Regions from separate parts of the Homo sapiens genome. Here all the other regions are reported to be linked to region 2. Evidence: microRNA targets listed by miRTarBase, many of them from high-throughput screens and not tested one by one. Region 2 holds a microRNA gene; each other region holds the end of a gene's coding sequence.
Evidence for each region. Region 2 holds the annotated microRNA hsa-miR-30b-5p (UGUAAACAUCCUACACUCAGCU, at 4,764-4,785, opposite strand). A microRNA usually pairs through its seed, bases 2 to 8, with sites in the 3' UTR of a target mRNA and lowers its output. Matches are read on the target gene's strand: a 7mer-m8 pairs with bases 2 to 8, a 7mer-A1 pairs with bases 2 to 7 and ends in A, and an 8mer does both.

Region 1 (7,126 bases), not on the chromosome of region 2:
ACAAAGAGTTCCCATCTCAAGGCACACCTGCGAACCCACACAGGTAGGGGGACAAACTGCAGAAGGGAGGGGGGTTAGCTTCCAGCCCCATAGGCTACCAGTGGACACTCCTCAGTGCCTCCTTGACTTCCCAGGTTAGCTTCCAGCCCCATAGGCTACCAGTGGACACTCCTCAGTGCCTCCTTGGCTTCCCAGGGCAGTCTATCGCCTTGATCTCCGGGATCACTGGAGAGAACAGCAAACCGGCGCCTACTTTTCTGCCCAGGAGCCTTTTGCTTGATGGATGGTATCTGTGTTTGAATGTGCAATTTTGTTAGGCTTTTAAAAGGCAGGAGATTCCCCGCGGTCTGTGGGCCTCTCCTAGCTTGGCATTATAATCAAGAAATTATACTTTGCTATGCAAAAGCATGATGGCTTTTTTAAAAAAATCGTTTTTTAATGTTCCCTTCCCAGGTTCACCCTCCCTTTTTGTTATTTTGAATTCTGGTCGTAACAATTCGGTCTTACTTTTTTATTTTTTATTTTTTGTTCGTTTTGATTTACATTTTTATTTTTTTTCCCCCACAAGCAGAAGGTTTTATTTTAAATTCCAAGAATATGATGGTCAAAATTGCTGGGAAGATTCTGATTTAGGGTTGTCACTGCAGAGCATTTCCATGTCAATGTAAGTAGGTACCCAAAGTCGTTTAGGTGCAGCATTCAGTAACGTAAAGGTAAAGAAAAAAAAAGTAGCCACCTGTGGCTTTTTATCCCCAGTCGTAGTAGGAATAAGATTGCATGGTTTGGGCACACTACCAATCACAATTTCCAAATTTCATTTCCACCACTGAGATGCCTTGACTCAAATGAAACATTAGTATAGGTTTAGGTGGTGTTTGTGTGTTTTTGGTGAAACATTAGTATAGGTGTAGGTGGTGGTTGTGTGCTTAACTGACCCCCTAAAAACAAGACCAAATACTTAAGCACGGAATGTATTTCTGTTTATGATATGGAATTCAATACACCCCTTCAGTGGTATAAAGACATTCCTGGATTTCTTTAGGATAGGGTCAGAGTTGGTTTACTATCTGGCCTTCAGTTTTTAAAAGGGGCGATTCTTTGATATAGCAATAGCGTCAATTTTTTTTTTCTTTTACCTTTACAGGTGAGAAACCTTACCACTGTGACTGGGACGGCTGTGGATGGAAATTCGCCCGCTCAGATGAACTGACCAGGCACTACCGTAAACACACGGGGCACCGCCCGTTCCAGTGCCAAAAATGCGACCGAGCATTTTCCAGGTCGGACCACCTCGCCTTACACATGAAGAGGCATTTTTAAATCCCAGACAGTGGATATGACCCACACTGCCAGAAGAGAATTCAGTATTTTTTACTTTTCACACTGTCTTCCCGATGAGGGAAGGAGCCCAGCCAGAAAGCACTACAATCATGGTCAAGTTCCCAACTGAGTCATCTTGTGAGTGGATAATCAGGAAAAATGAGGAATCCAAAAGACAAAAATCAAAGAACAGATGGGGTCTGTGACTGGATCTTCTATCATTCCAATTCTAAATCCGACTTGAATATTCCTGGACTTACAAAATGCCAAGGGGGTGACTGGAAGTTGTGGATATCAGGGTATAAATTATATCCGTGAGTTGGGGGAGGGAAGACCAGAATTCCCTTGAATTGTGTATTGATGCAATATAAGCATAAAAGATCACCTTGTATTCTCTTTACCTTCTAAAAGCCATTATTATGATGTTAGAAGAAGAGGAAGAAATTCAGGTACAGAAAACATGTTTAAATAGCCTAAATGATGGTGCTTGGTGAGTCTTGGTTCTAAAGGTACCAAACAAGGAAGCCAAAGTTTTCAAACTGCTGCATACTTTGACAAGGAAAATCTATATTTGTCTTCCGATCAACATTTATGACCTAAGTCAGGTAATATACCTGGTTTACTTCTTTAGCATTTTTATGCAGACAGTCTGTTATGCACTGTGGTTTCAGATGTGCAATAATTTGTACAATGGTTTATTCCCAAGTATGCCTTAAGCAGAACAAATGTGTTTTTCTATATAGTTCCTTGCCTTAATAAATATGTAATATAAATTTAAGCAAACGTCTATTTTGTATATTTGTAAACTACAAAGTAAAATGAACATTTTGTGGAGTTTGTATTTTGCATACTCAAGGTGAGAATTAAGTTTTAAATAAACCTATAATATTTTATCTGAATAATGTTTTTTATTGTTTTGTTTTCCTCCTGGAAAAATATGAACAGTGTTTGGTTTAAACACACCGGGTTAATAAGGCATGTAAGAAGCACGCACAAAAAAGCCAACTTTATGTCAACAAATTAAAATACCTTTTTTTATTAAAAAAAAACTATTTAGTTTTACCATAAATACTATCAATATAGGGCTGAGAACTCTTGATTATTGTACGTTTAAAAATTACAAGATTAAAAACCCAGTTCAGGTTTGCTCTTTCCAAATGTACGTAAAGCTACGTGAAAGCAGTTTCCTTACCTATGATTTTCCCAGTAGAAACAGCTTAATCATCCTTAAATTTGCTCAGTTTAGTATGAAAATATTTATGAAATATATACATTTCAGTTTCATATTTGAAAAAAATCTTTATGGTTTGTCTTTTAAAGTAAATAAAAATAAAAAAGTTTTCTGTGGAGGCCTGTCCCAGCACCCCTCACATCTGAGTAACAAAAGAACCTTCCTACAGCAGACAACCCTAAGAACGTAGTTCCACAGTGCCCTCCTGAGGATTAAAGGGTTCATTTATGCTTGGTGTGTGTTAAAGATACATCACTTCTACTAGTTACAGCCTTAAAGAGGTCAGAACCAAAGTTTCTGGCAGATTGTTTTAAAGCTAAATCAGTTCCCCTGACTGAAGGTGGGAAAACAAACTGAAATAAAATAATTTAAAAATTATTCAAATTCATAAAACTAAGTGTAAAGTAAGATGGTGTTATGGTAAGTTTGTAGCGTTTATATTAGAAGTTTTAATATTAAAACTCAAAACTGCCCTGTTAGAATCTGAAGTTCTTGAGATGGGTGCCTGAAAGATTGAAATTCATTTGGGGCTATCGCAAAATGGAAAAAGCATTTGTGACACTTGTTGACACCTTATATACTTGTAATAGTGATGTGGGTGACTAAACATCATCAAGGGGACAGAGCTCACTGCTCACTGGCATTTTTTTTAGAGTGCTTATTAACTATTGATTGTATCTAGTGTCCAGAGGTGCGTTTGTACCATGGGTACATGTAATAAATGAAATAAAAAATGGATGTTTATAAGAGGCTTATGGTAGATCAGCACAAGGTATTTTCTTTGGCTTTTGAGAGTCCACCATGACTGGAAAGCATAGCATGTGTCTCTGCTTAAAAGAAAACAGGTGCATCAATAGGATGGAATTTTATGTGGCCAAGAACATATTCAAAGCATATTTAATGACATGGAAAAATGCTCATAGTAATGTTAAGTGGAAAAAGCAGGATATAAGACTATCAACAGTACCAATTCAACTGTGTACATTTAAGTGTATGTGTGCTTTGAAGGAGAGAGAGAGAAACAAAAGGAAATTAAGAGAAAACCCTAGAAGGAACTGCCAAAATATTCATACTGGTTTTCTCAGTTTTAATTTTCTTTTCTTTTTTTTTGAGATGGATTCTTGCTTGTCACCAAGGCTGGAGTGCAGTGGTGTGATCTCGGCTCACTGCAATCTCCACTTCACAGGTTCAAACGATTCTCCTGCCTCAGCCTCCTGAGTAGCTGGGATTACAGGCGCCCACCACCACACCCGACGAATTTTTGTATATTCAGTAGAGACAGGGTCTCACCATGTTGGCCAGGCTGGTTTCGAACTGCTGACCTCAAGTGATCCGTCCACCTAGGCCTCCCAAAGTGCTGGGATTACAGGCATAAGCCACCGTGCCCAGCCTAAATTTTCTTTTTTGAAGTTTTCAAATATTCTAAAACAGCTATAGTAAGTTTGAAAAACTTTTTCATAAGAATGAAGATATAAAGAACAATTAAAATTATTTAAACAAAAAGCCCTCATTAGAACACATTATTCTGTAAATTATGTTTAGATTTCTTTAAGTTTAAATTTCTTAAATTTCTGTTAAATTGTGGTTGGTTGCTTTTGTAATCCACCTCTGTTATACAGAATCTTTTGGCACACGGTGTATGAAAATGACTGAAAAATGCCATCTTTATATTTGCTAAGTGCATATTATCTCGAATAGAAGAAACATGCATAAACTATCAAGAATTTTAAATTTATTTAAAATTTTCTGATGTCATAGATTAACATTCCTCTACGTTAACTTTTTCTTTATTCTTAATTTTTATTTAATTCTTTTTCTTCAGCTTTTAAGTTCAGGGTACATGTGCAGGATGTGAAGGTTTGTTACATAGGCAAACATGTGCCATGGTGGTTTGTTGCACCTAGATATTAAACCCAGCATCCATTAGCTATTCTAACTGATGCTCCCTCTCCCCAACCCCTATTTTTTTAATTTTTAATTTAATTTTAAAAAATTTTATAGAGGCAGGGTCTCACTATGTCGCCCAGGTTTGGTCTCGAACTCCTGAGCTCAAGCAATCCTCCTGCCTCGGCCTCCCAAAGTGCTGGGATTACAGGCATGAGCCATAGCACCCAGCCTACATTAACTTTTTCTAGCCTGAAAAAGAAAGCTTCAATATCTAAAATGAATGAGGAAGATTTCCCAAAACTGTGACCAAACAAAATACTATTCGACATACGCCAATAGCTAAATTATTTACTCTGGGACCTATCAGCTGTGGGCTCCTAGGTGTGCTGTCATTATGGTGTTACAGAGCCGTTTATACACTATACAATAAAGAGTACCTAATAATTGTGATGCCTGCTTATTATATTTTCCTTATGACACTTAATTTTACTGTTTCTTATTTTAACTTGTGTGCCTACACACACAAAGGATTAACAATGATGTTTCCTACACACATCAACAGACTTTCAGTCCACCTATTTTCCAGCAAAATGTCTCTTCTGATAAAATTCTTTCTGCCTGAAAACGTATTTGACTCTTGCTATCCTGTTTCAGTTTGTAAAACAAAACAGATGCTTTCACTATCTCAAGTAGGATGGTCATGAGGAATATTTCTTTTTCTTCCAAAAATTGTTCCAGGCCGGGTGTGGTGGCTCACACCTGTAATCCCAACACTTTGTGAGGTTGAGGTGGGAGGACTGCTTGAGGCCAAGAGTTTGAGAGCAGCCTGGGAAACATAGCAAGACCTCATCTCTATCAAAAAAAAAAAAATCAATGAAAAAGTGTTACAATTTTTAGAAACATGAAATGCTCTTCACAGTTGGAGATTGATAATTTTTACATATAATTTATTTCCATATAAGGAAGCCCAGGGGAGGTAGTCTTTATGCTACAGAAGCAAGTCCACAGAGAAAATATTAAAACAAGCAGTGGTGGTACCTGTTGTACTTCAACAAATGGGAGTATCTAAATTTAGCAGCCTGTATCAGCCACCTGTCCTATTAAATGTTCTGGCTTCTGAAGCTCCATTCAACACAACATACATACATAGATGGATTTGTAGCCTAGATACTCCCTCACCCACTCTTGTCCATTTATTTCCCTGTCTCTCATACAGACATGAATGCCACCCAGTCCCACATAAACCCTTTTACTTTATGTATTATTCTTATCATTTTATTCATGATTTTATTACATATTGCGTTTTATCTATTTGTTTTACTTCTTTGTATTTTCGTAGCACCTTCTACAGGCTATTGTATAGTGACATGTTTTTATAGTGCTAAACCGAAGCTATGTCTGCCTCCTAAAGGTTGTTTATGAAACTATCATTCATTGTTCACACGCAGAGTCATTCAATAATATTTCATATAAAACCTCCAAGACCAGTCTATATAATGAATGCTGTAAAAAATATCATGGAATGTTCTACCTGTGGGGGGGAGGAAAACCACAAACTACTGTTAAAGTTAGAATACTGCATGAAAATAAAAACTTTTTTTCTACATTAAATGAAACTAAAATGAAAGTTGGAAAGTTTCCCTTTGGAAAACTTTATCTTAAACAGCAAGGTGAATCTTGAGTAAATTTCTCACCATCTCCTGAAAAACTAATAAATTCTTAAATCCATTTGAAGAACCTGGTGCTTTACTCCCCTGGTCACAGTCAAAACAGAGGGAAAGCAACTGCTAAAATGTTAGCATACACAGAAAAATCTTTCAGGCTGGAATCAAGGCTACCACAGCCAGTTAACTTAGCTGGGGAGGAACGGGTGCATGGGGTTGAAATATTAGTCAAACTGCTTCTCTGGAGTCATGTGCATCTGGAGCCCATCTTTTTAATTGTTTTCCACGGTGCCCTTGATATAATATACTTTTTTAAATTGCTTCGGTCTTCTCGACACCCTAGATGAGTCAGCATGTTGCAATCATTCGCCCAAATGTCTTTCTCCACTTGGTCTTTTTTTTTTTTTTTTTTTTTTGAGACGTTGCTCTGTCGCCCAGGCTGCAGTGCTGTGGCGCAATCTCTGCTCACTGCAACCCTCCGCCACCTGGGTTCAAGCCATTCTCCTGCCTCGGCCTCCAGAGTAGCTGGGACTACAGGCAAGCACCAACACGCCAGGCTAATTTTGCATTTTTAGTAGAGACGGGGTTTCGCCATGTTGGCCAGTTCTCGAACTCCTGACCTCAAGTGATCCTCCCGCCTCGGTCCCCCAAAGTGCTGGGATTACAGGTGTGAGCCACCACGCGCGGCCTCCACTTGTTCTTAAAGGAAAGGAGGAAATAAACAAATTCAATTTAATAACAGCAAAAAGTAAATTCACAGTTAGAAATCCCTTTGACATCTCACCTGAGGATACCTAACACAACATTTTTCTTTTTTTTTTTTTTTTTTTTGGTATTATTAGTAGAGATGGGGTTTCACCATGTTGGCCAGGCTGTTCTTGAATTCCTGACCTCAAGTAATCCACCTGCCTCGGCCTCCCAAAGGGTTGAGATTACAGGCGTGAGCCACCGTGCCGGGCCTGCTTTTGTTTTTTGTAAAGACAGGGTCTCCCTATGTTGCCAAGGCTGGTTATGTTTCTTTTCA
Region 2 (7,126 bases):
TAAATAAGGGAACTTTGGTGAACAGCCTCATCTTGTGCTTTGGGAGAGACAGGATTTGGGTGAGGAGAGCTGGAGAAGGCCAAGAGGCCTTGAGGCTGCTTCTTTAATTCAGCATGTCAAAGCCCCATATTTTGGGGTATTGATTTCTGAACCTTAACGTAATGAAGCCTCCACAGAAACTCAGAAGGACAGGGTTCGAATGAGCTTCGAGACAGCTGAACACATGAACTGACTATTCCCAGAGGGTGGTGCACCTGGAGAAGGCACAGAAGCTCCGTGACCCTTCTCAGTATCTTGCCTATGCTCCTTGTCTTTCTGGCAGTTCATGTGTATCCTTCATAATATCCTTTATAATAAATGGGTAAATGTAAATAAAGTGTTTCCCTGAATTCTGTGAGCTGCTCTAGCAAATTAATCACACTTGAGGAGGGGGACCTCTAGCCAGTTGGTCAGAATCACAAACCGCTAACTGCTTGTGACTGACATCTGAAGTAAGGGGTAGTCTTGTAGGACTGAGCCCTCCACTTGCGGGATCTGACACTATCTCCCAGTAGATAATGTCAGAATTGAACTGAATTAGAGGACACCTGGCTGGTATCCACTGGAGAATCTGCAGTAAAGAACTGCTGGTTGTTGGTGGAGAGAAATCCCCACACACATTTGGTGAGAGAAGTGTTGAGTGGAATGTGAGAGGAGAAAGCACTTCTGGTTTTTTCCTTTATCTCTAATAATGTTCCTTCTCCTGCATTGCACTGCCTCCTTAGGAAGCACCAGGAATAAGAAAGGACATCTGCTTTTCACATGTGTCACTTGACAGACTTGTCATGATGATGGGTTAATAAAGAGACTAAAGAAAACCATTACAAAAAAAAAATCTGAAATTTACTTTGGCCACAAAGATGAATAGCAGTTGGACATTCTTGACAACTGCTTCTACTTTAGGTCTAGTGACTATGAAGCACAAAGATTCTCCACATATCATTAATAAATAAATATATATATGTATGCAAGCATGTATTAACTTTGCTTAATGTTTTAGTTTAATCTGATATTAATTTCTATATGTTAAAAGTTCATTTATCATCCATGTAACATAGTCTTCTGCACATCTAATCATGACATTGTATCAGTGACATAGTCTGGTCACTGCATTTAATACAAATACTGATTTGAAGAATTTATAACATTAAAAAAGTTTAAGATTACAGATTGAATGACCATTTAGAAAGTTATCTGAAAAAGAAGGACTGACAATACCCAACCCACAAACTGTTTCTCATTCATACTTATACCTTTACTTGAAAAATAACTCAGTATTTTGGTGAATACTGACTGTGCTACTGACTACAAACAGGAGATAATTTTTTGTATGTGCTATTGACTACACATAGGAAAATAATTTTGTTATATTAAGTATAAATAAAATACCCGCCCCCCACCAAATTTTCAGATAACCTATAAAGTGGGGAAAGCTTATCATAATGTCAAAATGACTGGGATATCGAAATAAAAGTAACTGTATACCTTTTAAGTGCCTTTTATACCCTTCAACCAAAAAAACCTTATAAAAGTCCTCCCTACCCCCAGGGAATTTGAGCTCTTACAACATTTGCACAGAAAACAAGTGGCAAAGGAAGTTTCTCAAACTAATTTTAAAAAACAGAACAACCCACAAATCCTGTTTTTATTTTTTGACAAAAGAAAAATACTGAACATTTTTTAAGGAATGATTTTGAAACAAGCAAGGAAAAGGTCACAACTTTGAAACCAGTTATAACTGCACCTGGATAGTCCCAAGACAGAAAGTTAAGTAGCTCAACAGGTTCTACTGCTAAGATTTTGAATCACAGGAATAATGTATATTAAATAGTAAAAATACCCTTGGGACTAGTTGTTTTTCATAAAAGTTAAAGAAAGTTAAGGCTAATATTAAAAAATAATCCTAATTTATATACATATAAAAATTCTAAATGTGAAATTGTTGTTTTATAATGTACTAGTAGCTTTGAGAAGAATTAAAATTAAAAAAATAAAAATACCTTTACATTTTAACCTGGAATTTAAAACAAGAATATTTCTAGATTTAAAAAACCTCTCAATATGAAGTCATTATCAATGAAGAGGTTAGTTGATTATAATATTGCATAATATGTTGCACTGAGTAACACTTTTGACATTTACTAAAAAAAAAACACATTAAAAAAAGTGGAAATGAACATAACTAAAAGATAAACTCTATTATATATTACAGATTCCCCCCATCTTGACTGACATTTTTCAATTACTGAAGTCTACAGGAGACATTTAGAACCATAACATTTTCCTATTGGAAATCGATGACAAGAGAAATAAATCATAAACAGGGGAGAAGCTAAATAATTCATGCCAAATGCTCACCAAATAATTATAAGATACCAAATCTTCAAAATTCACAGAAAAAAGTTCAAGTTTAATTTCAGAACATATCCCAAAATTATCAAAGACATCCAATTTTACATTATGTTATCTATTAATACCAAATGGCAATATGGTAAACAAGAGGGGAAAACTGAGACATTTTAACATATATCCAGATTTCATAACATTTAAAACTGATAAGCACACATTAATCAGAAAATATGTGATTAGAATATATTTACTAAAATTCTGTAACAATTCTAATAAATATACAGTGTTTTAAAAAATGAAGGCATGTACCTTCCTGTAAGGGTGGGAGACAGCTAACTGTAAGTAGAATGTTTCACTGCATTAATTCAAACAAGAAAAATACTCAAATTTTCACTTAAGTACAACATAGTTTCATGTATAGCTTCTTCTAAGAGACAAAGTGAGGCAAATCTGATAGCCCACATGATCAAAGACCTTATTACATAATCAGGAATGTATGTAATATAAAGATATAAACATATGGCCATTAAACAAGAAGAAAAAAGGCAATGAATTAAACACTAGAATTAGGAATTTAACCTACAGGCTATTTTGTAGCCTAAACCACATGCATATGCTGAGTATTTTTCACATCTAGCATATGAAAGAAAAATTCTATATTTTATGCACTGAGGTTCAAAAACAAATTGATGGGCAATTCCCAAATATGCTTAATTTGGGAGAAAAACACTTCATAAAACTACCTTTACATTATATGCTTTGTAATGCATTGCAATATGTTTCTCAAAGTACTATAAATTATAAAATAATGTAAAAATTTGGCAAGTTTCAAATTAACATGTGGAGCTCACTAAAACATAGTATGCTATGCACCTAAGTACAGAATAAAACAGCTCTCTCGTAATGACAAAGAAAATTAACAAATTATTCATTAAACAAATAAAATATATAATTAGAAAAACAGCACTCACCTTCAACAAGTCTCCATGCTTTCATTTCACATTTTTATTTAATCATGTATTTCTCATAACATTTAGACATCTTCCACAGGAGCACCAAGCATGAATTCTAATTCTGGATTTAGGCACAGGCAAGAGCATACAGACACTTGCCAAGCTGCTAGGATGTGTGTACTTCTTACATAATTTTCGTTTTATACTTGTTTGTTTTGCTTTTCACCTATACAGAATGTGGATGTATCACCAAAAAAAGAAAAGGCAGGCTGATTTCATGGAACTGAAAAACAAAGCTATAAAAAATTAATTTTCAGTATTTTAAGTAAAGACATGAAAATGGAAATAACGTTTAGACCAATCAGTACATATATAGAACTAATTATCAGGTATTAGCTTATTTTTAAATTGTTACCTCATTTAGTCTCAACAATCCTATCAGGTAGGTGCTATTATAATTTCAATTTAGTCGACTGAGGAAACTGAGGCACAGAGAGATTAATAACTTCCCCCAAAGTAACATAGCGAAGTAACTCGCAGAATCAAGATATGAGCTCCAGAAGCTGGGATTCAAAATTCTTTGCCACTATATTACAACAATATCAAAGATTCAAAGCATTTCCATTAAACCAAAAAGTTGGCATCATCTTTATTGCAAAAATAAAAACAAGTTATGTCTGCTTTAAGCATTATGGCAACTATTTACTGAACACCTACAACACAGCATTAATAATAACTAGCATTTATTGAGTACTTAATATGACAGGTACTGTACTAATGAACAACTTTATATTCATCATGTAAGTCAATCCATGCAATCACATACTTATTTTACAGATGAGAAAACCACTGAGGTATGGAAACAGTGCCTTTCCCTCCTCCAAATCCCGTAGCAAATTCACTTGTGGAGTCCAGATGGCAACAAATGTCTGATGTCAAAGCCCATGCTTGTTAAAGCACACTGCAATACTACAAACCCGACCCCAACTACCAAACAAGGGCATTCTTTTGTCCCAATACCCAGAGCCTTATGTCATGTTAGTGCTATAGCAAAATTGAAAAGATACAATAAAAATTTAAATTGAGTAACAAATTTAAAGGAATTTTAATAAATTTAGAGTAATTTTTCCTCTATAAGCATACTGTTTTTCTGTTTTAACTACTCCTACTGCAACCATGCTTTCTTCTGCTTTTCTCTGCAAACATATTCAAGTAGATCCCTGCCAGCTAGACAATTAACACACTTTTTCTCTGGGAGAACAAAATGGTCTCACATTTCCAACAAACCTTTAATTACATTAATTACATTAAAAATTCAAGCCTCTGTATACTATTCTTGCCAAATCTTTTATCAATGTTAATTGGTTGACATTCCAAGTCAGCTGAAGTAAACATCCACCTCCCAGCCAATCCATGTATTACAGCTGAGTGTAGGATGTTTACATGAACTGAAACTTGGTTTAAAGCAGGACTTAAACTCTTTACTAAGTTTGTACGGTTCTTTACGTAAGACTCTGTTGAAAAAAAGAACAGGCACAGCATTCACATAAATGAGGCAAGACTCAATCGGAAAGATATCCTGAGAGAAAGTGTAGAATCCAAGGAAAAGGCAGAAGTGAGTTGGGTGTTTGTTTTTTTGGAAGTGGGGGCGTGTCCAGGGCAGTGGGGGGCACTACAGGCACGCTACTATGCCCGGCTAATTTTTCTTATTAATAAAATTTTTTTTAGAGACAAGGTCTCACTATATTGCCCAGGCTAGTCACAAACAAGTGATAACGTTTTTCACCAAAGGAATTTACAACAATAAATGCCGACATCCTGTAGTGTTCCATATCTAAATGTAGCTGATTATCCAGCCTTCCTATATCCTTCCCTTCAAAACAATCAAACTTGCATTTATAAGAACTTACTTGATGACCAGTATGATGCATCAACCAATCTTCATTAAGAAGATTCCTCCTTTAGGTAAAAGACAGTTAATGAAACACTGTGAGGAGCTTAGTCATCTCTCCTCCCCCTCAACCCTCTCCTCATCTTCTCCCCCACATTCAGAATTCAGATAATTTCATCTCAGGCACATCTTTCCCACACTCTGATCTCTTTCCACCTTCTACTGTTCCCAGTGTCATTAAGGTGTCTCAAAGAAATGTCTCCCCCTCTTTTTGCATTCTTTCTGATTAAAAATATATTCCCACAAATATCTCCACTAACTATTATCAGTGGTCCTACCAACACACTTGCATCAAAGAAGAGGAAATCTTCAAATTTGGAAGTAAAACTACATATAATAACCACTGCCAGCAAACTTTAAAAATCTTTGGCATTTCACAGGTAACCCAGGACTTTCAGGAACCTCGCCAGTCTCTACCTAGTCTCTTGTCCCTTCGGGCTGTTTTCCAAAAGCATTGGTTCTCAAGATTAAATACACATATACCTCCCCGCCACCCCACTCTACAACCATACTGCTTTTCTGTTTTAACTACTTCTATTACAACCGTATTTTTTTCTTCTGCTTTTCTCTGAAAACACATTCAAATAGGCCCCTCCCAGCTAGACAATTAATATACTTTTTCTCTGGGAGAAAAAATGGTCTCACATTTTCAACAAACCTTTTTATAATCAAACTTCTGGATTAATACATGTTTTTAAGTTAAGGATTTTTCTGTTTTACTTCATGTATTAATTGGGCATAATATCTAGCAGGAAAAGAATGTAAGATGAGCTCTGTGATTCTGAAAGCATGGGCCTAGAGGAGCAGCATCAGCAGTACTTGGGAACTGTGGGGGGAAAAGCACATTCTTATGTTCCACCCCAGACCTACTGAATCAGAAACTTTTTTTGCAGGGCCCAGCAATCTGTGTTTTAATCAATAAGCCCTCCAAGTAATTCTGATGCAAGCTGATATTGAACAGCAATGGACTGTTTCACCAAACCTGTTGGAAAGCTAAAGCAAAGACAGCAGTGAATGTCAAATTACTAGGAAGTTTGTAATATGGTACAGATAAGAAAAAGGCAATGCCAAAACATGTAGCATGGGTCCACCCACAATTAACCAGGCTAGGCAAAGTGTGGCAGAGACTATCTGAAACAGCCTTATTTTAAAAAGTAACTAAGCCCAAACTGATATTCAAACTAAAAAAAAGAAACAAAAATATTACCTGAGCACACACAGCAAATAATGCACATTGATCCAATGAATAAAGCTGTAACAAGAGTAGAAGGGAATCACAGAACATGCTCGACGCAATACCACATGCATGCTGGGGTTTATAGGTTCACAGTCCATTTCTGGGTAACCTCAAGCCCATGACTCATGTAGAAGGAACTGAGGTGTGGAGATCAATGAGAACAAGTCCAACAGTGTATTTATATGACTATTTCTAACCAAGAATATTTGTACAAAAGCATCTAATTTGAAATAAATTGGAAGACCCAATTTTGTAATTAGTTATTTGCTTTAAAAAGTTGTCCCTAAGTCATTTCAGACCATATACTCAGGATAAAATACTGTCATTTACAGAATGGTGTTCAGTAACTAAAAATGTTTTACTTTAAATATCAATTGGTAGAACAAATCTTAAATAATAAGTAATTTCTGTGCTTTCTAAGTCCTATCAATGAATACCACAATTTTTTTCTTCAACACTAAGTTAAGGGCTAGGGAAACAAGTTATTACAGGCTTATTGACAAATACTGATGATCTAACATTTCAAGCCATTTGCTATAAATAATCAATTGCTAACCTTATAGGCCAATGGGAAGTTAGTGGTTCTTCAATATAAAA
Region 3 (7,126 bases), not on the chromosome of region 2:
GTAGAATAGTTTTTGATGTCTGCATGACTGTTATGGACTGAATATTTATATCTCCTCAAAAGTCATGTGTTGAAGACCTAACCCCCAATTGTGACAGTATTAGGAGGTGGAGCCTTTAGGTGGTGATTAGGTCATGAGGGTGAGGCCCTCACAAAGGGAATTAGTGCCCTTGTAAAACAGACCCCAGGGGGTTCTCTCTCTCTCTCTTTTCCTTTTTCTTTTTTTGGGGGCAGGGAGGGGGGACCAAGTCTCACTCTGTTGTCAGGCTGGAGTACAGTGGCGTGATCTCAGCTCACCGCAACCTTCAACTCCCTGGTTCAAGCGATTCTTCTGCCTCAGCCTCCCGAGTAGCTGGGATTACAGGCACTTGCGACCACACCTAATTTTTGTATTTTTAGTAAAGACTGGGTTTCACCATGTTGGCCAGGATGGTCTCAATCTCCTGACCTCGTGATATGCCTGTCTCAGCCTGAGGCATATATCTCAACTTTGGGAGTGCTGGGATTACAAGTGTGAGCCACCGTGCCTGGTCCGCTCTCTCTCCTTTCTACCATGTAAGGATACAGTGAGATAGTGCCATCTATGAACCAGGAAGTGGTCCCTCAATAGACATCAAATCTGCTGTTGTCTTGATCTTGGACTTCCTAGCCTCCAGAACTGTTAGCAGTAAGTTTCTGTTGTTTATTATCCACCTAGCGTAAGGTATTTTATTATAGCAGCCTAAACAGACTACGACAGTGACAAACCTGTTCCCTCAGTACTCATCCCCTGGACAACAGGTATCAGGACATCTTATGTTAGTCAGAGTAGGGTGGGTTACACTGTAGGAACCAGCCCCACAAAAATCTCAGGAACTGAACAAAATAAAGGTTTATTCTTGCTTGTAAAAAGTCCAATGCAGGCACCGCACTCCTGAGTAGTTCTATTTCAAACAATCACTCAGGGAGCTGGGTAGGGCCCTCAGGAATGTGGACCTTCAGGGGCTGCAGGAGCAAAGGGAGAATAAAGTCTCTCTCATAGCTTCCAAGAGACTTTCAAGGGCAGATAGAAAGGATCAAAGGCTGCCAAAAGTTCAGAGAGCTGTCCCCAGTAGAATAATGAGGTAAATGCAGATATCAGAGTGTAAGGAGAAGGGAGCATGTGTGTGCACGTGCAGTACGCTGAAGAATGGGCAAGATCGGGAGGGAGATGAAAAGGGGAAGCGCCCACCACTCCCATCTGCAGAGCCCATGCAAGAGTACAAATACAGGTCCACATGCCATATATCCAAGTATTTAAAATTTGAAATATGTTTTATCTTCCTACCATGGTGAATATCCCTTCATCAGGACCCGAGAAAGCAGGTTTGAATTTTGAAATCTTTGACTCCTCACTGCTCTGCTCTGGAGCATGGTGGCTCAGGTATAGCTAGCATTGGGCCAACCCCTGCCCCTCTCTCTTCCCACTTTGGCTCCATCCTACAAGCAGCTGCCCCTTGGCTGCCTCTTGGTCTTAGCAGCGCAGTTCACTTTCAGGAGGCTGGACCAGGGGAAAGACCTGAGCAGCCCTAAAAGTGGGGTTGAGACCACAGGGCAGGGGATTCTGTCTGGGGCTCCATTTGATCTAACAGGAGGGGTGGGGGCTTTGGGTGCGCTTGCCCTTTGTCTCCTCACCAATGGGGATGTACGTAGCCCGAGGAAGGCCAGAGCAGGGCCTCTTTCCAGGATGAAAGGGCAGTCCTGATCCCAGGCAAGGGATGCAAGAAGAACAAGACCATGGAGGCAGGAACACGGCAGGACTAGAAAAGAGGGGGCAGCCCTGGGGAGAAAGAAGCCTGGAAGCACAAGCAGAGGCCAGAAAATGTTCAAGGAAGGGCTGGGCGCGGTGGCTCACACCTGTAATCCAAGCACTTTGGGAGGCCGAGGCGGGTAGATCACTTCTGAGACCAGCCTGGCCAACATGGCGAAACCCCGTCTCTACCAAAAACAGAAAAAAATTAGCTGGGCATGGTGGCACATGCCTGTGGTCCCAGCTACTAGGGAAGCTGAGGCAGGAAAATCGCTTGAACCGGGAAGCAGAGGCTGCAGTGAACTGAGATCACGCCAACTGCACTCCAGCCTGGGCGACAGAGCGAGACCCTGTCTCAAAAAAAAAAAAAAAAGTGCAAGGAAAAATACACAATTTGCTTAACCTATGTGGTTAAGCTCTTCAATCCTCAGTCCCCTTGGCTTGGAGAGCTGCCCAGATATGCGAGGATGCAAAGGTTCTCGATTTCTCATGTTTGTGCTGAAGCTTCCCAATTGTGTCTGCAGCCTGCTACCTCAGCATTACTCATAAAAGTATTGTTTTAGTTTCTAGTGAAGTGAAAAAGGGGAACTACGGTTTTCCTTCCCATACCAGTTGAGAAATTATTTAAAGACAGAGATCCTTAAATGCTTGTTTTAAGGAAGCACGCTTCTAAAAATGACACACTTCACCCTCCTTTGGCGATGAGTTCAGGAAGGCTTCCTGCAGGTAGCATCTGACGGTGGCTAAGCCAGCCATGCAGGCTCAGACCTGGGGGCAGAAACTGAATGTCAAACCCCTTCCTGACATGTCTACCACGTTCCTTCCAGCAGGTTTGAATTCCGAAGTCTCAGACAAATGACCACACTCTGGGTGGTTTAAAACAACAGGGTCAGGCGCAGTGGCTCAGGCCTGTAATCCCAGCACTTTTGGAAGCCGAAGCAGGCAGATCACCTGAGGTCAGGGGTTAGAGACCAGCCTTGCCAACATGGTGAAAACCCGTCTCTACTAAAAATACAAAAATTATCCAGGCCTGGTGGCGTGCGCCTGCAATCCCAGCTACTCGGGAGGGTGAGACAGGAAAATCACTTGAACCCAGGTGGCGGAGGTTGAAGTGAGCTGAGATCGCACCACTGCACTATAGCCTGGGTGACAGAGCAAGACTCCATTTCAAAAAAACAAAAACAAAAACAAAACAAAACAAAAAAACCCCAGGAATTTATTCTCTCATAATTCTCAATGTCAGAAGTTTGAAATCAAGGGGTCAGCCATGTTGGGTTTTTTTTTTAAGGCTCTGAGGAAGAATCTGCCCCCTGCCTCTCTCCGGCTTCTGGGGGCTGCCAGCAATTCTTGGTGCTCCTTGGCTTGTAGATGCATCACCCCAACCTCTGCTTTTTTTCTTCCCTGCATCTTCTCTCTTCTCTCAATTTCCCTTTTCTTATAAGGACACCAGTCACTAGATCAAAACTCATCCTAATGCACTATGTCCTCATCCTAACTTAACCACCTCTGCAAAGACCCTACTTCCCAAAAGGCCACAGCACAGACACCAGCATAGACCTTTAACATATTCTTTCATGGGACACAATTCAACCCACAACAGTAGCTATTGTTCTAATCCTTGTATTACAGATTATAAACTGAGACCCAGGGAGTAACTTACCCAGAGATACAGAAAATAAGGGGTATGACTCAGTTTGTAATCTGTCTAGACCTCATTATTACCATTTGCCCTTGCTTGTACCAGGCCTTTTAGTGGGTGCTTCATTTTCATTTCTAATCCTTATCTCAACTGCAGAGAGTCATATCCCTCATTTTACAAACAGAGGCTTAGATAATTTAAATGGCTTCCCCAGTGTCTGAGTCTATTTGTGTTGCTATAAAGGAATACCTGAGGCTGGGTGATTTATAAAGAAAAGAGGTTAATTTGGCTTATGGTTCTGCGGGCTGTACAAGCATCGCACCAATATCTGCTTCTGGTTAGGACTTGTGGCTGCTTCCACTCATGGTGGAGGGGAAGGGGAGCCTGCGTGTGCAGACTCCCCTTGTATGGAAACAGAGGAGGCAAAGAGAGGGCAGGGAGGTGCCAGGCTTCATAACAACCAGCTCTCATGGGAACTAAGAGTGAGAACTCACTCATCACCACAAAGGTGCCACCAAGCTATTCTTGAGGGATCCACCCGCATGACCCAAACACCTCTTATTAGGCCTACCTTCAACACTGGGGATCAAATTTCACCATGAGGTTTGCAGGAGTCAAACAAGCCAAACTAGAGCACCAAGTCACCATGGGTAGGTAGAAAGTGGCATATTTGGGATCTAATCTGAAGTTGTGGCCAATAATTCTCACCCAGGTCAACACACCAGACATCTTTGGGATGGCTTGCTCCTCCTCATCCTATAGCCTCTGCCTTGAGATGGTGTAACTTCCTCCCTGCAGTTGAGAATCATGACTGTAAATGACACACTACTGGAATTGCCCATGTGAAGAGTGCAGAGGCAGAAAATGAATCACTGACCTTTACAGCACTGCAACTGATGCCTCACAGTGGGTAATGGTCTGACCAAGCATTCATCTTCTTTCCGGCAGCCAAGGAAGAGTTGAACAGAAAACCCACACAATCAGGAAGACCCATTAAACAGCTATATATGCCACAACTAATTACTTCCTTATGGGGTGCTCCATGTGGGCTGAAGATCACTTCCCTAACAGGTGCCTTCCTGGGAAGAAGCCTCTATTATCACATTGGAGAGGAACAAAGTCTCAGACAAATCCCATACTGCAGTTATTTAAATGACCTCATTCTTCCTCAAAATAGAAAATCAAAAGCATCACTTCCTGGCAACTGCTGTGCACTCTTCCTTAATATCAAAGATATGTAACACACACAGGCTCATCAGTGCCTTACAAACATACAAACCCTGAGCACAGAGCCCTTCAAGCAATGCTTGAGCCATAGCAGCTGCCTTAAATCAACACTGATGTGAGAAAACACTCTGCCCAATGCCACTTCTGCAAGTTGGAGCAACACTTACCAGTTAAGGTTGTTTTTACTCCTTTGTCTTGAAAAGACACCACAAAAGAAGCAGGGCCTAAGCATGGGCTTTGGAGGCAGGTGGACTTGAATGTCAACCCCAGCTCCATCATGCACTTCCTGTGGGAACCTAGGAAAGTTATTTCTCTTCTCTAGGCCTCAGTTTCCTTGCCTGTAAATGGAGATATAGACATCTGCCTCAGAAAGGAATGTGAACATACCACTCTTACCCTTGATTCTTAACAGGGAATAGGAGCAATGGGCAAGAATGAAACATTGTTTGAAGTCTGGTTTTATTTATTCTATGTGCCTCTACACTTCTATAATACTTAGAAAAGATCTGGCTTAAATAATGGATGTGAGCACAGTTCTGGCAGAGGCACTGCGGATGAGAAAACAATTGACAGAATGAGAAGACTGAATGAAAAGAGATTGACAGAAGTCATTCATTTCTTTCATGTGCTCAGTACTATCCCATTGAATAAAACACACTCATACACATGGCTGGATGGGGTTAGGGGACAATCTGTGACGCTTTATTGCCTGCCTGTGCTGTCTGAGAAAATCAAGGTAGGTTTAGTTAGGGCATGTGAATCCCAGGGAATGTAATGCCCAAGCCCTAGGTTGCAAACCGTTCAGTCTAAAGGTATACCATGAAGGGACCCAGCCTCAAGGCCCCTTTCTCAAGTGGGAGAAAGTATATAGAAAGTAGAAGAAAAAAGAATAGGCTCACATGTTTCAGGAAAACATATAAGAACTATTAGAAAAAAGAAATTCATAAAGGTTTTGTGATTCATTTAACCTTATTAGTCAATGTCTATGATTTTAATGTTATTACTAGAATCACACTGTTCATTATTTCCCCCAGTTCGTTTAAATCTGCAAATACCTTATGTTCAGTTTTACATCTGTTAAAGCAAGATCCTCAAGGGCAGGGATGGAATTCTACTCACTTCTGCATCCCTTGACATTGCAGTGTGTGGAACAGAGATGACAAATACAGGTTCAATTTGTGCCACCTGAAAGAGTGCCATCTAGAAGCAGTTGCTTCAAACTGCACTTCAACGGGACCCACACGCCCTGCTAAGCAACTCAAACTCATCATGAAATAAATCTGCAGAAGAAATGTGTACTCTCTATTCAAACTCTGAAGTAAATAAAATGTGTATGATTGACACAATCACAAAATGGCATTTAAGTGGAAGTCTGCTTCCTGAAGAAATAAAAGCCAGAGCAAACAGATTTGGGGTCATATTTTTGTTCACTGAAAGGACCAACCAGTTTCATCAAACAAGCTTTAGAGAAAGAGAAACTGAGTAATTCATCTTGTCAGTTACAGTTCACATATATGCACACACATACAAACTGGCTCAGCATCAGTGAAACATAACTATTCAAATACAAAAGTATAAAAAACCTCTTTAAAAAACCAATAGCAGCCAAAACAGAACATTTGTAAACAAAACCACAACTATCAGCCCTGTGCTTAAACACAGAATCTGCATTCTTTTGAAACATTAAGTATATGCAATAAAGAGAATATAGACCATCTTTTTCCTTAATATACAATACCCAATATCTAAAACAATGTCACCAATAATAGACACAAATCGGTGTTATCATAAGGCATGTTGAACAGTCTTTTTCACAGTACTCAGGGGCATCATGTTGCTGCAGAGGCCACACTTTCCAGAAGTTTTCTCCTCGCTGTGATCCTCGCACACCGGGGGCACTCGGAGGACTGGAAGCACTGTTTGTGAAAGCAAGCCCTGCACGCTGCAAGCAAGGAAGAGAGCCGTTAGCAAACGGTCTATCTTGTTTTCTCACATTTCTGCAGACATTCGTCTCCATCCTAGGGAGGGAGAGGGGTCTGAATCCAGAGCCCAGAGTCTTCTAAAAAGAAACCAGCCAGGCTGAAACGCACGTTTCAGCAGGTCACATTTCAGCAGACCTGTTGGACTCTTCCAACAGGTCATGAACAGGAGGCTCAGAGAGCCTGATGTAACGGACACTGCAGTGCCCCCTGGATCTGCTCAAGCACTGAGGCAGGCGTTTCCCCAGCTGCCAAGAGAGGTGGTGGCTGATAACTCTTGGGAAGCCACATTGTTTCTCTAGATATGGCCCTACATCGAGAAAGCTGCTTTGTCCCCTTCCTGGCACCAGCCTGCATTCAATGACTGATCACTATATAGTGAGTAGGCCGGCCCCAATTTGTCCCCAGTTTGGAACAATGCTGAAAGGCCACCAAACTCCAGAGCTCCCCGTGAGATGAGCTGAGGGCTCCACTGCAACCCCACCACAGTTCAACTTCTCCCTCTCCCAGTCTT
Region 4 (7,126 bases), not on the chromosome of region 2:
AACAAAGAGTGTCCTACTCTCTTTGTTACAATCATTTGGGTCTAGATTTTCTGTTTTTATAATGGGGCTTTGTGTAAAATATTCCCTTAAAAGAAAAGGAGACAGCTACTTTAAAAATAAGTTTAAAAACAGTTGTTCTTAGAATGTAATATGCCTTATGGACCTACGAGAGTAGCTTTTAGCAGGAAGATCTTATGTGCTTAAATTTTGTTCATGTAAGAGCTGTCTTTTATAGCATGTAATCTAAGTTTACTCCATCTTACAGGTAAAGGCAAACTCAGTAAAGCAGGAGTTTGAAAAACAAGATGAATTAAAGCGATCTGCCATGAGAGCAGTAGCAGCACTGCTAACCATTCCAGAAGCAGAGAAGAGTCCACTGATGAGTGAATTCCAGTCACAGATCAGTTCTAACCCTGAGCTGGCGGCTATCTTTGAAAGTATCCAGAAAGATTCATCATCTACTAACTTGGAATCAATGGACACTAGTTAGATGTTTGTTCACCATGGGGACCATTACATATGACCATACAATGCACTGAATTGACAGGTTAATCATAAGACATGGAAAGAGAAGTGTCTAAAAGCTTCAAAATGTTCCACTTTTTTTTCCTTCATGGAGACTGTTTGTTTGGCTTTCTTCCATTGTTGTTTTTGTAGCATTTATTTCAGAAATGTGTATTTCCATAATCCAGAGGTTGTAAAACCACTAGTGTTTTAGTGGTTACAGCAACATTTGAAATGGAAACTAAAAGTTAGGATTTTATGGAGTATGGAGATAGGGTCCAGTATCTATTTACCCTGTAATGTTTAGGATTAAAATGTTAAAATTTTGTGACCATGAATTTCTTTCTTTTATAAATTTTCTCATTTAAAAATCAAAAATCTTGCAAAACAAAAACCATGTTTCTTTTTCTTGTATAACTTTTTGTTTTCAGCAACATAAATTGATTTTTAGCTGGCAGACAAGAATATCCATATAAGATTTGTTAACCATTTCAGAGAGTTTGGCAATTTTTAAAAGATAATAAGGTATCATTTTTAAGTATGAAAATTAACAATATCCCTGTTGCGCACACTAATTTTGCATGAGTAAGTTTACAAATATGTATCGTCTGTAAAGCAGCATGTGCAGATTATTCATAATATAGAAGTTAAAATAAGTATTAGTGCAATTTTCAGATATTTATTTTTGCACAGAAAACACATTATCTGGAGAGAAAGAAAGGAGAATTTTTGAGACTTGGGTTTTCTTAATGCCAGTGTGAATTTGCAGATGTTTTCAGAAAATCAAGTCACAGTAACAATTTGCCACTTTTTTCTATTATAAATCTTCTTACTTAAATTTTGAATATTTAGTTTTTCTCAGTTACCCATTTGTGTGTGTGTGATTCCACTTAGAAATTCTTAAAACCAGATTTTTCTTTCATTCCGTTTGGATGTCTACATTCCTTATCAAAGGATATAAATACTGTGTATGCTTTTGAATTTTATTTTTAGGAAAATTCTGAAGCCAGCTATCACAGGTTTGTTAGCTAATAATAGTATTTTCTTTTAGTTGAGTTAGGTTTTTCCCCATCTCCTGTAGAGCGAATTTACATATTGTATTGGGTAAGTGTTCACTACTTTTCCTGATTAAGGGATCTGTGCTGGGGAACAAAGCTTTTGCAGTACCTTATATTGTAGTTAAAATTTTATTTAACATATCCTTCAGTGAGCTCATTTCACACTGTAGCCTCTTCCTTAAAATTTGTGGTGCTCCTGTAACAGTAAGAACTAATTCTGAAATAAAAGACATCTCCTAATGCTGTGCAAACATAGTTTACATGTATTGAAGGAGGCAGTTGTTAAATTGAGTGACCAATTTAAGCAATCAGATATTTGAAAACTGCACCCTTTAGTTTTGAAACTGTGAATTAGAAACACTTTTCCTGCTGTATTACTACCTGCTTTAACATCCAAATATACAGTGATTTTAAATGATAACATACTGTGGTTATTAGATTAACAGCTTGATTTTGAATGTTCAGATGATAATGCAGAAGACATCACTTCTAGTAAGGATTTTGACTAGTGCATTGATGTTGAAGTTGGTGCCATTTCAAAATGTGGCAGGTGATAATCTTTTACCATAATTTGCATAAAACTGTAATAGAAGTTTATTTTGAGATGTTAGTATATTATGTACTATGCATTTCTGTGGTATAGATGTTGTGGATATATTTAAGTATTTGGTTACATGGTTTTACAATAAATTACAATACTGCAGGCTCTAGGACTGAACAGGAGACTGACATGCATATGTTGTGTGAATGTCTTAGTTGGGTAAAGTTAAATCCAAATACTTCAACTGGCTTTTTCTTCAGTTTGTTTGTTTTTAACTTTCAAGATGCATGTTTTGTTTTGTTTTGCTTTGTTTTTGTCTCTTAAGCCAATTCATTTTTCTAACAGTTGAAATTCTTTTAGTACTAAAGAAATAGATACTGCTCTTTTATGGCTTTAGTGTTTATATACCTGTTTATATGCATACATTAACAAAATTAGTAACAGCAGTGCTTAGAATTTCAATGCTGTGTCATACTGATGATTAACTCCATACTCCTAGTGGTGATGTGGTCCAGATACTGGAATGGAAGTGGCAGGATGTGGAGTCCAGACATAGTCTACCACTCATGCTACTTACTAGTAATATTAAGGTGTTAAACTTAGGAATTTGTCACATGTAGGTTCCTGAGGAGATCTAAAAGTTAATACAAAACCAAGCTGTTTACTGATTTTCATGAGAACATTTAAGTTAGTTTAGGTCTACCTGATTTATTTTAAAAGAAGGCAGAGGGCTGGACGCAGTGGCTTACGCCTGTAATCCCAGCACTTTGGGAGGCCGAGGCGGGCGGATCACGAGGTCAGGAGATCGAGACTATCCTGGCTAACACTGTGAAAACCCATCTCTACTGAAAATACAAAAAATTAGCTGGGCGTGGTGGCAGACGCCTGTAGTCCTAGCTGCTACAGCTGAGGCAGGAGAATGGCGTGAACCCAGGAGGCGGAGCTGGCAGTGAGCCGAGATCACGCCACTGCACTCTGGCCTGGGCAACAGAGCGAGAGTCTGTCTCAAAAAAAAAAAAAAAAAAAAGGCAGGAAGGAAATTTGGTATGGCAGGGCCTAACCTAAAAGGTTATTTATAAAATCAATAGCACTGAATGATAATTTTTTTAATGACAGTCATGTATTTTATTAATGATATCTGAAAGCTGCTTAACCATTAGGAATTACAATTCTTTATGGTTGGAGTATGATGATTTCATCAAATGTTTGAATATTTACATAATTTTTATGTAACCATAATTAAACCAAATTAGTCTTTTTTTCTTCATACTTTTCTTCGGTAAATAGTGAAGAAATAATGGGCATATCTAATTAACCAGTTCTAGTGGGTGTTGTGATATCTTTATATCTAGTTCAGTCTCAGATGTATGAATATGATTATATAGTCATGATTGAAGTTCAAAATGAGGAAGTATACAAAATCCTCAGCCACTGAAAAATTCAGTTAACTTGTTTATACTCCTGTAAGCTCTAGTTAGTCACAAGACAAAGTATATAGTAACACTTTGTAATGAAGTAACATTTTCTGCCCACATTAATTTTACTAAAGACCTAAATTGTTAAAATTAATTGCCAATCTCTGGATATATTATGCTTAGTAAGTGTTTTGAAATTAAAGACCTTAAACATTTCAGCAAGTAAATTTTGGATTCTAGCTCTGTTTTAAATTGAATCCTAATTTTCAAACCACTGCTACCCCAGATTCATACCTGTTTTTGAAATCTTGTTTATGGAATGGAAAATTGACAGTATGGTAATAGTTTATTGACTGATTGGACAAAGGATATTCTGGTTTTAACTGACTTTTCCATTTAAATAAAATTCATTTGATAATTTTGGTTGCAAAAGTGGAACACAGTGGAAGTATTTGGCTACAGGCTACCCAAATCTCATCAGATAAGGCTGTTTTCTTAAAGGAAATGCAAAATGAAATCATATGTTTTCCTTTTCCAATACAGTAAATTGCTTGTTTTCCTATGAATATCAGAAAAGATTTTGTAAACACCTTTGCTGTAGTTTCAGGCAAGATCTTTCAGCAACATGTTTTTGCTCTTTGTAACTTAGAAAGTTAGCTCTGAATCCAAAAACTACTGAAGTGAGTAATGCATATAATTTTACTTTTTTGGACCCTATAATGCCAGTGTGTCAGGTTTCAGAATGATATTTAGTAGACAGAAATACCTAATTTTGTTTTGGAATCTTAATACCCTGTCCTCTTCATAACTTTCTAGTGGTGATTTTAGCAAGTTTAATTATTTTGCTGAGGTCTTAGAAGACAGAAAGCTTATGCTATGTAAAGTGACATTGTTTCCAGATTAGGAAGTATTGGAATTAATTTGCTATTGCCAGTAAGTAATGGTTGATGGATATTAAGTGATTTTAGTCTAGAATGCTCTCAAAAAAATAGTAAAGAATTGTACTTCAGGGCCAGATGGCAGCTCACGCCTGTAATCTCAGCACTTTGGGAGGCCAAGGTGGGGGATCACTTGAAGACAGGAGTTGGAGACCAGCTCTAGGCAACATAGTGAGACCCTGTCTCTACCAAAAAGAAGAAAAAAGAAATCAACAACATGCAACCATAAGAATGGATGAGATGGCCCTAAAAGAATAAGGATTACATATAATGAGAAGACGTGTGGGCTGAAATACCTAGTGAACAATATTTAAGGGAAACTGAAGTGCAAATGGCCTCACAGGTTTGTTTTTGTGTTTAAGACAAGGTCTCACTCTGTTGCCTGGACTGGAGTACATAGCACGAACATGGTTTACTGCACCTCAGCTTCCTGGGCACAAGTGATTCTCCCACCTCAGCCTCCCGAGTAGCTGGGAGTATAGGTGTGTGCCACCACGTCCAGCTAATTTTTTTATTTCCTTGTGGAGATGGGGTCTCATGACCTTGTCCAGGATGATCTCAAACTCCTGGGCTCAAGCAATCCTGTGTTGGCCTCCTAAACTGCTGAGATTATTGCAAGTGCCTCCTTGCCCAGCCACATGTTGTTGATTTCTTTTTTCTTTTTTTTTCTTTCTTAATTTTTTTTTTTTTTTTTTTTTTTGAGATTGATGGAGTCTTGCTTTGTCTCCCAGGCTGGAGTGCAGTGGCGCAATATCGGCTCACTGCAACCTCTGCCTCCCGGGTTCTAGCTATTCTCCTGCCTCAGCCTCCCAAGTAGCTGTGATTACAGGCGTGTGCCACCATGCCCAGCTAATTTTTGTATTTTTAGTAGAGATGGAGTTTTGCCATGTTGGCCAGGCTGGTTTCAAACTCCTGATCTTAGGTGATACACCCGCCTCGGCCTCCCAAAGTGCTGGGATTACAGGCGTGAGCCACGTCCCCCAGCCAGTTTCTTAATCTATACATCTAGCCCAGTCCATGCCCCTGTTTCAGACTATTATATCCAACCACCTGCTATACATCTCATAAAGGTATCTCAAACACAGCATATCTAAAGCTGAAGTCATCATCTTGCCCTGGTTTTTCCTGTCTCTTTGCTGATGGCATCCCATTTACCCAGTCATTCAAACTGGAAATCTAAAAGCCTCACTTAGCAAGAGTTTGGAGGCAGAATATGATAAAGAACAAGGACTCTGGGAGGCCAAGGCAGGTGGATTGCTTGAGGTCAAGAGTTCGAGACCAGTCTGGCCAACATGGCGAAACCCCGTCTTTGCTAAAAAAACACAAAGAAATTAGCTAGACGTGGTGGCACATGCCTGTAGTCCCAGCTGTGTGGGAGGCTGAGGCAGGGGAATTGCTTGAACCTGGGAGGTGGAGGTTGCAGTGACCCAAGATTGCATGCACCACTGCACTCCAGCCTGGGTGACAAAGCGAGACCCTGTCTCAAAAAAAACAAGGACTCTACAGATAGATAGACATCATATATCATATTAGTTTGAATCCTGGCTGTTAGCTGTTAGACTTGGGCAAATAATTTAACCTCAACTTTCCCTATCTATAAAATGGGAATTAAAATATTTGCACCTTATAGGGTTATTGTGAGGATTAAATAGGAACATTGTATAAAGCACTTAAAACAGTACCTGGGACATACTAAGTAATATAATTGTTAACTCTTACTAGCATTCTGTCCCTTTTATTTCCTAAATATCTCTCATGCCCATCTCCTAAATATCTCTTTCCTAAATATCTCTCATGCTTTTGGCTTAAGACCTCTTTTCCTCCTTATCTATTGACTGGACTGCGGCAAATGCCTGCTAATCGTTATTTTTGTGTTCATTCATTTAGCAAGCCAATTTATTACGCGCTTAGGGTGCTGCCAGGGCTACAAAAGCTGTTGAGACTGTACTTGATATGAAGAAGCTTGCTGATTATCATGGGAAGACTGACATAAGGAAGCACCATAAAATTCTGCTGTATGAGAGGTATACACGGGATACTGGGGGTTAATAATTGAGGGTATGGTCCATTCAACATGAGTGAGACAGAAACAATTCATAAAGGAGATGAAATGTCTTGAGGAATGAGCTCTTAGAAGAATAGTTTTCAAATGAGTGTGCATCACAGTCACCTGTAAGACTTATTAAAACAGATCGCTGGGCCCTACACCCAGAGGCTGTGGTTCAGTAGGCTGTAGTAAACCAGTAATTTGTATTTCTATGACGTTCCCAGGTTCTAATGCTGTTCCCCAAGGCCACACCTTGGAAACCACCACATTAAAATACCCAGAAGGCATTAATTCCCAGTCCTTCCTCTACACAGCTGCAAAACAATGGTCCTGACCATTTCATCTTTGCACTACATCCTTCACTGTCTCTCTTTTGCCCATAGGATAAGTACAAACTAGATCTGGTTACTGCCTGCCCCACCAGCCTCAGCATCTCTCACAACTAGGACTAACTTTTTCTTCTGACAACTATAAAATATTTCCCTTGCCTTCTCAAGTTTGCTCAAGGTCAAGTTATGCCTTTTGCCTGGAATGACTTGACTTCTCTTTTGTTTTACTTAGCTGGCTGCTTTTCATCTTGTAGGTTAGGTCAAGGACTCCAGGAAGTCTTCCCTGGACAAGTA

Region 1: miRTarBase lists KLF4 as a target of hsa-miR-30b-5p. The part of its 3' UTR that is shown has no 7-base or 8-base seed match.
Region 3: the mRNA of RUBCNL is a reported target of hsa-miR-30b-5p. Seed matches in the 3' UTR shown: 8mer at 6,254-6,261.
Region 4: the mRNA of CAND1 is a reported target of hsa-miR-30b-5p. Seed matches in the 3' UTR shown: 7mer-A1 at 1,094-1,100, 7mer-A1 at 1,818-1,824 and 7mer-m8 at 2,762-2,768.

What each region holds. Positions count from the first base shown.
Region 1 is chr9:107,479,945-107,487,070 of GRCh38, reverse strand. KLF4 (KLF transcription factor 4) reads left to right here. Exons shown (of 5, transcript NM_004235.6): 4 at 1-43; 5 at 1,145-2,219. The coding sequence ends at 1,320. Among named protein-coding and RNA genes, the nearest start is that of KLF4, 6.3 kb to the left of the region's middle.
Region 2 is chr8:134,795,807-134,802,932 of GRCh38, forward strand. It overlaps MIR30B (microRNA 30b), which reads right to left and starts at 4,801; the gene lies at 4,714-4,801. It also overlaps a transcript of ZFAT not described here.
Region 3 is chr13:46,336,923-46,344,048 of GRCh38, forward strand. It overlaps RUBCNL (rubicon like autophagy enhancer), which reads right to left. Exons shown (of 15, transcript NM_025113.5): 15 at 1-6,575. The coding sequence ends at 6,463. Among named protein-coding and RNA genes, the nearest start is that of LINC00563, 43 kb to the left of the region's middle. RefSeq lists an enhancer at 2,190-2,269.
Region 4 is chr12:67,312,341-67,319,466 of GRCh38, forward strand. CAND1 (cullin associated and neddylation dissociated 1) reads left to right here. Exons shown (of 15, transcript NM_018448.5): 15 at 266-7,126. The coding sequence ends at 490. Among named protein-coding and RNA genes, the nearest start is that of CAND1, 47 kb to the left of the region's middle.